3 separate regions of the Homo sapiens genome follow, and regions 2 and 3 are each reported to be linked to region 1. Evidence: microRNA targets listed by miRTarBase, many of them from high-throughput screens and not tested one by one. Region 1 holds a microRNA gene; each other region holds the end of a gene's coding sequence.

What was found. Region 1 holds the annotated microRNA hsa-miR-4667-3p (UCCCUCCUUCUGUCCCCACAG, at 2,272-2,292, shown strand). A microRNA usually pairs through its seed, bases 2 to 8, with sites in the 3' UTR of a target mRNA and lowers its output. Matches are read on the target gene's strand: a 7mer-m8 pairs with bases 2 to 8, a 7mer-A1 pairs with bases 2 to 7 and ends in A, and an 8mer does both.
Region 2: miRTarBase lists TMEM170B as a target of hsa-miR-4667-3p. Seed matches in the 3' UTR shown: 7mer-A1 at 3,064-3,070.
Region 3: miRTarBase lists LSAMP as a target of hsa-miR-4667-3p. Seed matches in the 3' UTR shown: 7mer-A1 at 702-708, 7mer-A1 at 698-704, 7mer-A1 at 694-700, 7mer-A1 at 690-696, 7mer-A1 at 686-692, 7mer-A1 at 682-688 and 4 more.

The regions. Positions count from the first base shown.
Region 1 is chr9:35,605,868-35,609,124 of GRCh38, forward strand. It overlaps MIR4667 (microRNA 4667), which reads left to right and starts at 2,227; the gene lies at 2,227-2,292. TESK1 (testis associated actin remodelling kinase 1) reads left to right here. Exons shown (of 10, transcript NM_006285.3): 2 at 117-238; 3 at 370-418; 4 at 970-1,116; 5 at 1,460-1,542; 6 at 1,715-1,805; 7 at 2,061-2,144; 8 at 2,293-2,382; 9 at 2,528-2,642; 10 at 2,995-3,257. RefSeq lists silencers at 1-219, 1-260.
Region 2 is chr6:11,575,271-11,578,527 of GRCh38, forward strand. TMEM170B (transmembrane protein 170B) reads left to right here. Exons shown (of 3, transcript NM_001100829.3): 3 at 161-3,257. The coding sequence ends at 291. Among named protein-coding and RNA genes, the nearest start is that of TMEM170B, 39 kb to the left of the region's middle.
Region 3 is chr3:115,807,442-115,810,698 of GRCh38, forward strand. It overlaps LSAMP (limbic system associated membrane protein), which reads right to left. Exons shown (of 7, transcript NM_002338.5): 7 at 1-2,973. The coding sequence ends at 2,876. All of the region lies in intron 1 of LOC124906269 (a long non-coding RNA gene), which reads left to right. Among named protein-coding and RNA genes, the nearest start is that of SNORD155, 96 kb to the right of the region's middle.

The DNA of each region.
Region 1 (3,257 bases):
GGACCGAGCCTTCAACCAGAGGCTGAAACTAGGGGGCCGGGAGTGCGGGGAAGAGGGTCCAGACTCCGGCGACCCGCCCGACCTGCCCGGCCCTCGCCGGCTGCTCCTGCCCCCAGGTTCGGCACCGACAGTCAGGGCAAGTCATGGTGCTGAAGATGAACAAGCTCCCCAGTAACCGGGGCAACACACTACGGGAAGTGCAGCTGATGAACCGGCTCAGGCACCCCAACATCCTAAGGTGAGCGGCCCCAGTCTCTGGGCAGCTTGCTGGGCGGGAGAGAAAGGGAAAGATCCCGCGGGAAAAGTGGAACTGAGGAGGAGCTGAGGCCTTTAATAGCCTATCCTTCTATCTTCCCCATCCTCTTGCAGGTTCATGGGAGTCTGTGTGCACCAGGGACAGCTGCACGCTCTTACAGAGGTGAGGATAGGCCAGGAAGGAGGGATCCCCACCCCCCTTCACCCCCAAGGATAAAGGGAGTCAACAGGCCTGGTGGATCTACGGAGGACTAGTGAGAGGCAACAGGATCTCCTCTCAGGGGAGGCTTTCCTGAACTTTCCTTTAGGCAAACCACATATAAAAGGCCTCAACTGGTCTTATTCTCTGTATCCCCTAGAACAGTGCTGTCCAATAGAATTTTCTTCAGTGACGGAAATGTTCTCTATCTGTGCTGTCCAATACAGTAGCCACTAGCCACATGTGGTTAAATTTAAATTATTTTCATTGTTTAGATTATTTTTTGTGGGTCAACTTGATTAAAAAATTTTTTAAATTATTTAAATTGTTGCACATGGCTAATGGCTATTGAGTTGAACGGGGCAATCCTAGAACATGGATGGGGGGGGTCCTACAGCACAGTCTTACCCCTATGACCTCTGTGATCCTCGGGAGTGTCCCCTAGCGTGTAAGTGGGGGACCTAGAATACAGACTGAAGTCTGACATCTATTCCCATTCTCCTCCTATGCACCAGTATATGAATGGGGGGACATTGGAACAGCTGCTCAGCTCCCCTGAACCCCTGTCCTGGCCGGTCAGGCTCCACCTGGCCCTGGACATTGCCCGAGGCCTGCGGTACCTGCACTCCAAAGGTGTATTTCACCGCGACCTCACATCCAAGGTAGGCTAGCAGGGTGGGTGGAGACATGAAAGAGGGTTTGAGGCTATTAGGTTGTAACTGGCCTGTGGATGTTGGAATATGGATAACAGATATATTAGGATGTTGGAGTGGCAAGGCATTGGAGAATATTGGGGGACCAGGGTGAGGGGAGTGCTCGGAGGGACTGAGTAGCACCCTGTGTTTGGAGTGTTGGATGATGTTGCAATATTGAAGTGCCTTGAAAAACTGGGAGAGCAGAGAGGGTTGGAGTTATGCTGGAGTGACAGGGCTTTGGGTTATACATTGGGAGGCCAGACAGCAGAAGGTGATGAGTGCGTGGGGATACTATGTGTGTGTGTGTCAGAACTGTCTAGTCCGACGGGAAGATCGAGGCTTCACCGCTGTCGTGGGTGACTTCGGGCTGGCCGAAAAGATTCCTGTGTATAGGTGAGATGAATGTCCCTGTTCCCCCCAAATCTCCCAGAGTGCCCCTATCTGATGTCCCCAGAGCCCCAGGGATGTTTCCCTTGGGGAACGGAGGGAGTTCACCTCATCCCCTTTTGCCTGGGGGGGATGCCTGAATAGGATGCTTCTGACCACTCTGCCCCTGCCCCTGCAGGGAGGGGGCAAGGAAGGAGCCATTGGCCGTGGTGGGCTCCCCATACTGGATGGCTCCAGAGGTGTTACGGGGTGAGCTGTATGATGAGAAGGTGAGACATCAACCCTTCAGATCCCCAAGGCCTTCCGAGACCCTTGAGGTATTCTCATAAAGCCCCATCCATCCCCAAAACAACCCTACCAGATCTTCAGGAGTCCCCAAGATCCCTTTGCCCCTCACAGGCACCCTTCTAACACATGAAAACTGTCAAGATCCCCCACCCTCAACCAAATTCTGCTATATTCTGTCAAAATTCTGAAATGAAAACTGTTAATTCTTCCCCGACACTATTATCTCTGACCCCCAGGCTGATGTCTTTGCCTTCGGGATTGTCCTCTGTGAGCTCATCGCCCGAGTACCTGCAGACCCTGACTACCTACCACGCACTGAGGTGAATGTTTCTAGGTTTGCAAAGAAAGAATTCCAGACTAGCTGGCTCATAACCAAGGAGGATTCCCTAGAGGTTGAGGTTCTGACTGGGGAGCAGAAGGAGAACCCAAGAAAAGCTGACTTGGAGGTCCCTCCTTCTGTCCCCACAGGACTTTGGCCTGGATGTGCCTGCTTTCCGAACTCTGGTGGGGGATGACTGCCCACTGCCTTTCTTGCTCCTGGCCATCCACTGCTGCAACGTAAGAGCCTCACACTCCTTCCTGCCCCACCCTGCCCCCATCCGTAAGCTGCCATGGCTGCCCTGTGGGACCCAGGTGATGGGAGGAAACTCAGAGACCCTCTTTCGGAGCACTGAGTGAAGCCGTTCCTGTCTCTACCCATCAGCTGGAACCCAGCACCCGTGCCCCCTTCACCGAAATTACCCAGCACCTGGAATGGATCCTGGAGCAGCTGCCTGAGCCAGCCCCACTCACCAGGACCGCCCTGACACACAATCAGGGTAAGGGAGCCTGACCTTGATCCAGCTTGAGTCCTTTGGCCTTTGTCCTCCCTAGAATTCAGAGGTGACATGGGGGAGGCTAAGTATATTTATTAGTTGAAAAGGCTGGGGGTCGGGCTGGGGTAGGGTGGGAGGACATCTCCAAGAAGACAGTTTCCTAATGCTAAAGCTTGAGGGAGAGGAGGGGAAAGAAGTAAAAGGGGCCTGGAGATGACATCACCCCTTTCCAAAGCACCAGGTGGGACTCCCTTTTTCAAGCTCTAGTCCCACCAGCCTCCTGGAGAATAGTGAGGCCCTCAAGGAGCTGTGATCAAATGCTGAGGACAGTGATTCCAGACTTCTCTATCTACAGGCTCTGTTGCAAGAGGGGGTCCCTCTGCCACGCTTCCCAGGCCAGATCCCCGGCTTTCCCGAAGCCGGTCAGACCTCTTCCTGCCCCCATCACCAGAATCACCCCCCAACTGGGGGGACAATCTGACTCGAGTCAACCCCTTCTCACTACGGGAAGACCTCAGGGGTGGCAAGATCAAGCTCTTAGACACACCCAGCAAGCCAGTCCTGCCTCTTGTGCCACCATCACCATTCCCATCCACTCAGCTGCCCTTGGTGACCACT
Region 2 (3,257 bases), not on the chromosome of region 1:
TCACCAATCACAGGGAAACTTTTTCATAGAAAGTGGATAAAATGAGAAAAAAATGATGACTTATGTTTTGATGAAATGAAAAGAGCTCTTAAGGTGCAGCATGCAGTGTGTTATAAAACGAGTGACTGTATCCCTTCATTTTTCTCCCGTTTCTCCTTAGGTGCAGCAGTAGCGGGCATTTACAGAGTAGCTGGGAAGAACATGGCCCCTTTGGAAGCGCTGGTATGGGGCGTTGGACAGACTGTACTGACATTAATCATCTCCTTTTCAAGGATCCTCGCTACACTTTGAGGTTTCTGTGGGAATGTCTTACTTCACATAAGGAAACAGATGTACAGATTCCCTGAAAACGGCATTGTTAACAAGTGGAAATGAAATTGTGCAAGAATGTGGACTGAGCAGGTCAAAGCATAAGGAAGACCTTGAGCTGTGTGGAAGGATTGCCCTCTGGTGTTCAAGTGATTGCACTACCGCACTGCACCTTATGTGCCTCTGTCTCAGGCAAGGTGCATTAAGACACTATGTAAAGTTACAAGAAAAAGCACCTTGTTTAGCTGCCTATCAGGTTAACATTGGTGTTGAAATCATCGTTCCTAACAGTGTTATGTTAAGTTACAGGGACGTTTTGAGGTATTGATATATGTGCCAAACTCTTTTCTTTTTGTTAACATTGATCATGTGACAATTTGCAAGTGTAGATGTAGCTGAGTGCTGTGAACATATTTGACATGAATTCAGGTAATGTACTAAGATTTTTGTTCGGTAACACTAAATCCCGTATGAGTGCTAAATACTGAATTGTTTAATATGAGAGAAATTATTTGGTTTTTAATGTTGCGCGTTTCTGGGATTTAGGGCTTCAATATGTTTAGGTATTATTGTTATTTAATTGATGTGGAAGATAAGTCTTCTTAACTGAAGACTAGCTCAACTGTTTTAAGAACTCAGAGTAGCTCTATAGGGTGCATACTTTTCACCAACTTAAGTAACACCCTTTTAATAGCTTCTCTCATGCATCCATATTCTGTTTATACAAATTCAGAAACTTGAAGGGTCATACACATTGATTGTAGTTTGTGCGTCATAAAAATGTAATTTGAAGATTTTCTTAAAAATTTTTGTAAGAAAAAAGTCTGAAATGCATGTTGCATTCTTTGACCCTTCTAAAGAAAGTTTTTGCCTTGTATCTCATGGACAAAACATCTTTATAACTAGTATCTCAGTGGGATTGTATTACGTGTTGCATATATCTTGATTTTTGACAAAACATAAACAGTCTTTCATTCTGGAGTATTAACTGTTTTTAGAGACTGGCCTAAATTAGGCTCTGGAAATAAAGACCTCATTTGTAGAAATAAGTAACAAGTAAGTTATATAGGAAGAGTAATGAACTATTTTACTTTGGACATGTGGCAACATCATAATTTTGCTAAGTAAAAATTGGGGAATATAGTAGATAATTTTAAAATTTGGCAATTAGTCTCAGCATATCAATGCAGTACTGAGCGTGTATTAGAGTAATTCAGTTGTTCAGTTCTTGATTTATGATATGAAGTTATGATTTAAGTTTAGTAGAAGAATCTGTGAGGGCATATAGCAAAAGTGGAAATGTCCTTTATATAAAACATTTTAAGAGGTTCTGGCAATACGTAATTGTAAGAGTATAGGAAGTAGGGTTGAACTGGTCTCCTAATGAGATTTTTTTTGGCACCAGATACAATTATAATGTGCTAACTCAAAGGAGACATTGCAGAGAATATGAAGTTAAGGATAATCCAAAAATAACCTGGTAGCCTTGCTGTTTAATCCAATTTGCTATAAAAGTAGGCCTTTGTTATATTACATTCAAATTTAAGAACTTTGTTACCCATACCACTTTTTCTCTATCCAGAAGCAGAGTATATCCACAACTTACCAATGAGAAGTTGGAGAGGCAGTACTTTTCTCAGTATGGAAGCCAATTTGGGAGATTTACTAACACTGGCTTGGAAATTTGTTTTAAAAAAATAATAAGCAACTATGCATGGATCTTTGAAGTAAATCTTAAAATTGATTATTTTTATTATGTACAGGCCTGAAATTGTTTTCATGTGTTCTTTATATTCCTGATGTTTTTACAAATTAAATTTAGGCATAACTTTTCCAAGTCAATCTGATTTTTTCTTTTCTGCCAGACTTGAATTGTGTTCTTCTTTTACTTTGGCTATTCTGTCAATAATTTAAAGCATTCGTATTCTTCCAGAGGAATTACCAATAGCATGTGGAAATTGTTTCAGATCTCCAGAATGAATACTTATTTTAACATATGTTTATTTTATGATTTAAGAAAGTTATGGTAAAGTAATATGGAGCATGATTCATAATCCAAAATTAACAAGAAAATAACTTGGATACATTAAATGTACTAATGTGTGGACCAAAGAGATTTAAACTATTGTTTTTACTCTAGAATGAAAGTATAATTGAACGGTTAATAATTAGTTTGTAGAGTGTCCTGCAGTTATTATCAAGTTGCTTTACATTATCAATTGTGTGTGTATGTGTATACTTTTAATTTTAGGGGTTATTTTTGGTTTCTTTGCTGTTTTCAGTTATTTCCATTGAGATTTTGTGCAACTGTCTCTCTTTTGATGTTTTGAGATGCAGTTGAATAGTTTGAGTTTGTGAATTGTCTTAATAGCTATTTATATGCTGAAATTTTTAAAAAGTTAGTAGCTTTCCTATAGACACAAGAAATGTTTAATGATATATATACACACACGTATATATCATTATATAGGTATATAGAGAGCTGCTATATATGAATACAGTCTACTTGGAAAGCTTTTTTTCAGTGAACACTTTCATGTTCTAGTGGAAAATTTGTTCAGTGTAATGATCTTTTAAATAGGTTTGAGGATGTTTGAAAATTTTGAATTTTGGGAAAATTTTCTTCACTTAATAGAGCTGGAGACCCTTGTTTGGGACATGACAAAAGTCCTTATTGATGTATTTGGGTTATATACTTTGTTAAAATTCGTATGTGATTTAGCAGTACATTTTCTTCGTGACAAATGCAAGAAGGGAGGGAGGATCCTCTATAGTGGACACTCCTTTATTTAAAAAATGTTTAATAAAATATTGTTTATAGTGAAATCAGCTCCCCAAAGAAGGAACTCCTACATGCCCAAACTAATTACAGTTGAACATACTGATTAAAAATGCCATAGATCACAGCTAGTCAGGAGGCCTCAAATAAACTGCAAATAATGCTTAAA
Region 3 (3,257 bases), not on the chromosome of region 1:
AGGGAACAAACGGTGCTGACATGGCAGACATTTATTTCAATGGAGAAGTTCCTCCCATGAAACCAAGACCTTGTCCTCATGATAAAGTGGAGACAATAAGAAAGCCAGGTATATAATTAAGGCCTGTGACATGCCATGGGGATCTGTTCCTGAAGGTAATACTAACATCCAACTTCTAACAACATCCAACTTAACTCCTACTTTTCTCTTCCTGTATATCTTTAAATTAGCATGCGCTTTTCTAAAGCCACACACTTAAGTGTGTGACTGCCTCTTCAATTTTTGGGGAATGCTTATTATTAAAGATGATACCCTTTATTCTTGAACTAAGAAGACCAAACTGTTAAGAGAAATACCTGATTGTCAATAAATTGATGCTGCATAGGAATATGGCTCACCTTCCCTATATTTTACTAGCTACCTTCTTGGATGAGAATTTGTTTTCTCTCCTATGTCAGAATCTGCTATAAACACTCTTAACCATCCCCAAGCTGAATTTTTCCTTGTATCAAGTCTAAACTGCAAAATCATGAAAGAAGGCTGTGATAAGCTTCTAAAACAAACAATAAAATCCCTTAGAAGAAATTGAAGAAATTAACAATGCTACTTAGATCTTTCTCCCTCCTGCCTTCCTTTCCTTTCTCCTTCCTTCCTTCCTTCCTTCCTTCCTCCCTCCCTCCCTCCCTCCCTCCCTCCCTCCCTCCCTCCCCCCCTTCCCCGTCCCCCCCTCCCTGCCTTCCTTCCTTCCTTCCTTCCTTCTTTCCTTTCTTTTTTTCCAGTTACAAAGTTTCTCATTTTATAACATGGAACAGCTATTTACAAGGTTCCAACTTAATGACATACCATATTTGGCTCTGCAAGATTACATTCAAATATAATCTCAAAATAATTCTCTGTCCTCTCATGAACTGAACCACTTTCAGTGCTTACTACTGTGTAAGTGAGAGCAAGGGTTGGTTTTCTGACAAAGACATCTATATGCAGAGAGCCAGCTCTCTCGGCAAGACATTTCCTAAGAAATCCTTCTGGTGATGTGGTAACACCAAGCTTTGTGGTACTCATAAAATTTCTGTCTAAATTTATTACAAGTTGCCCAGCAATTTTGGTTAAGGACCTAGATCACATTTCAGTGTTAATGTCAAGATGACTCTTATAGATGTAAATTTAAATAGAGCAGGGAAGATGAATATCATGCAATTCTTAGCACCCTGGCATAGGATAACAGTGGACCACCATGAACAGTGGTGCTGCAAACACCATCAGTGAAACAGAACAGGGATTATGCAGGCAACCAAATAAAACATTAACCTAGAACACTGGGAAAAACATCTGCAGAGGAGCACAAGGAGTGAACTGCTTTTCATTATGGCCAGTGCTCTGTATTAGAGCTCTGACAGTATCTCCAGAATACAGTAGGAGCCTGGGCATCTGTTGACTTTTTCTGCCTTGCTCACTTTCACTGTATTTTATCTGAAATAGGAAACAATCTCTGCTCAGGGGAATTCATGGGACAAATGTTATTTAAGATTAGGGAGGAGGTAAAACAGGGCTGCTTAGGATCTCCAAGTGGTTCATCATTCTTTCACTGGGAGTTGACACTTGGAGACCTTCCTGTTTCTGGGGATTTACTCAACACATGCTGCTCATTTTCACAGTGGAGCAGGGCCTACCCTGTTAAATGCCAGGAAATATAAGAATCCCTCAGACTCATGAAATGAGAGTAAAATCTGAAATTTTCTCTCCTAGGTCACCTCGTCCACGTCATAATTCCTTATGCTGTTTGCTTACCCCATCGATAGTAGGCACTTTCATTTACAGTGATATTCTGAGTGACTCCCCACTCGGTTCTGATGATGGGACTAGGAGGAATATGGGGTCCTGCCCTTGGAAGGAGCATAGCTTGGTTTGAATACACACTGATGCCATGTGACAGCCATGGATGTAGGGAGGACTCTGCTCCTTGCCTCTTTCCCCGCCATCTCCCCCAGCAACTTGTTACAGCCGCATCTCACAATTACAATGCAGGACAGTATCTACAGCACAATGAGTCTATGTACACATGGACCATTCCCTTGGCATGCTTTAGAGAGAGACACACACACGCTCACACACATGTACACCCACGTGAGAGCGAAAGACTTGAGCACACACGCACAGTGGAGAAAATGAAAATGGCACTTCCTAGCATTTGCGGCATGACTAGTGCTCTGGGGAGGGGGTGGAGGTGAGGAGAGGTGAGGGAGGAAAGGTGGGTGAAAAGGGAGTATCTAGGGTGGGTGTGGGGGAGATAGAACGCACTGGAGGGAGAGGGGATGATCTCTAAAGTTGGAGAGATAGTGGAGGAAGGAAAGCCAGAGAAAGGCTCAACATAAGATTCCATTGATAGTCTGAAGTGGCTACAAGTCAGCTCAAATGAAAAATAGAATTAAAAGGTTATGGAAATATAAACACCAAAGGCAAGACCTTATTTTCTTCCCCACAGATGAAAAAAGATGAAGGAAGGAAGGATAAAGTGTGTGTTGGGGGGCTTAATATCCATCTGGTTCTTCTCTTATTTTTACAGCATCCAGATGTCCTTAGTGTGGTGTAGTCTTTACACAGCATACATTTGCTTAGTAGATATAAACATATCCCAGTAGAACCTTCTCCATCCTGAATGATACATAAATTTTTAATGATGGACTGTAAAATTGTTTTAAATGTTGTATTTTCTTCTTCACTTTCTTATTTCCCCCTTCATGTATAAACACACAAAGTTGTGAAATAAACGGTCTCCCCCATCTCTCTCTCTCTCTCTCTCTCTGTCTCTCTCTCTCTGTATTCTGTGTGACGCATTTTTGTGTGTTTTTTAAATTATTTTTAAATTTTTATTCTATTAACATTTGCTGAGAAGGCAGAGCAGAGATGCTGCCAGCAGCCACAGTGGTACGGCCAGACTGATGGATCCATTTATTCCTCTCACCGACCCAGGTCCTGCAGAGCAAAAGAGGAGAGAGAAAAAGAGAATGAGTTACATGGGCCCACTGTATGTTATAGCTGACTGCTGATGGTATCAGAGGTAAGACCTGGCCAGGTACTAGCATCTCAAAGTTACTGCACTTATGTGCAGCCCAAGAAGCGCTCAAAACTTTTCTAAATCCTTCTCCTCCTTGGGCTACAAGTATCCTAAGGGGCATCATTGGCTGAAACACTTCTAAATACAAAATGCTTTTGCCGGGTAAGTCCTTAAACTGGCTATCACTAATGTGTCTGATGGT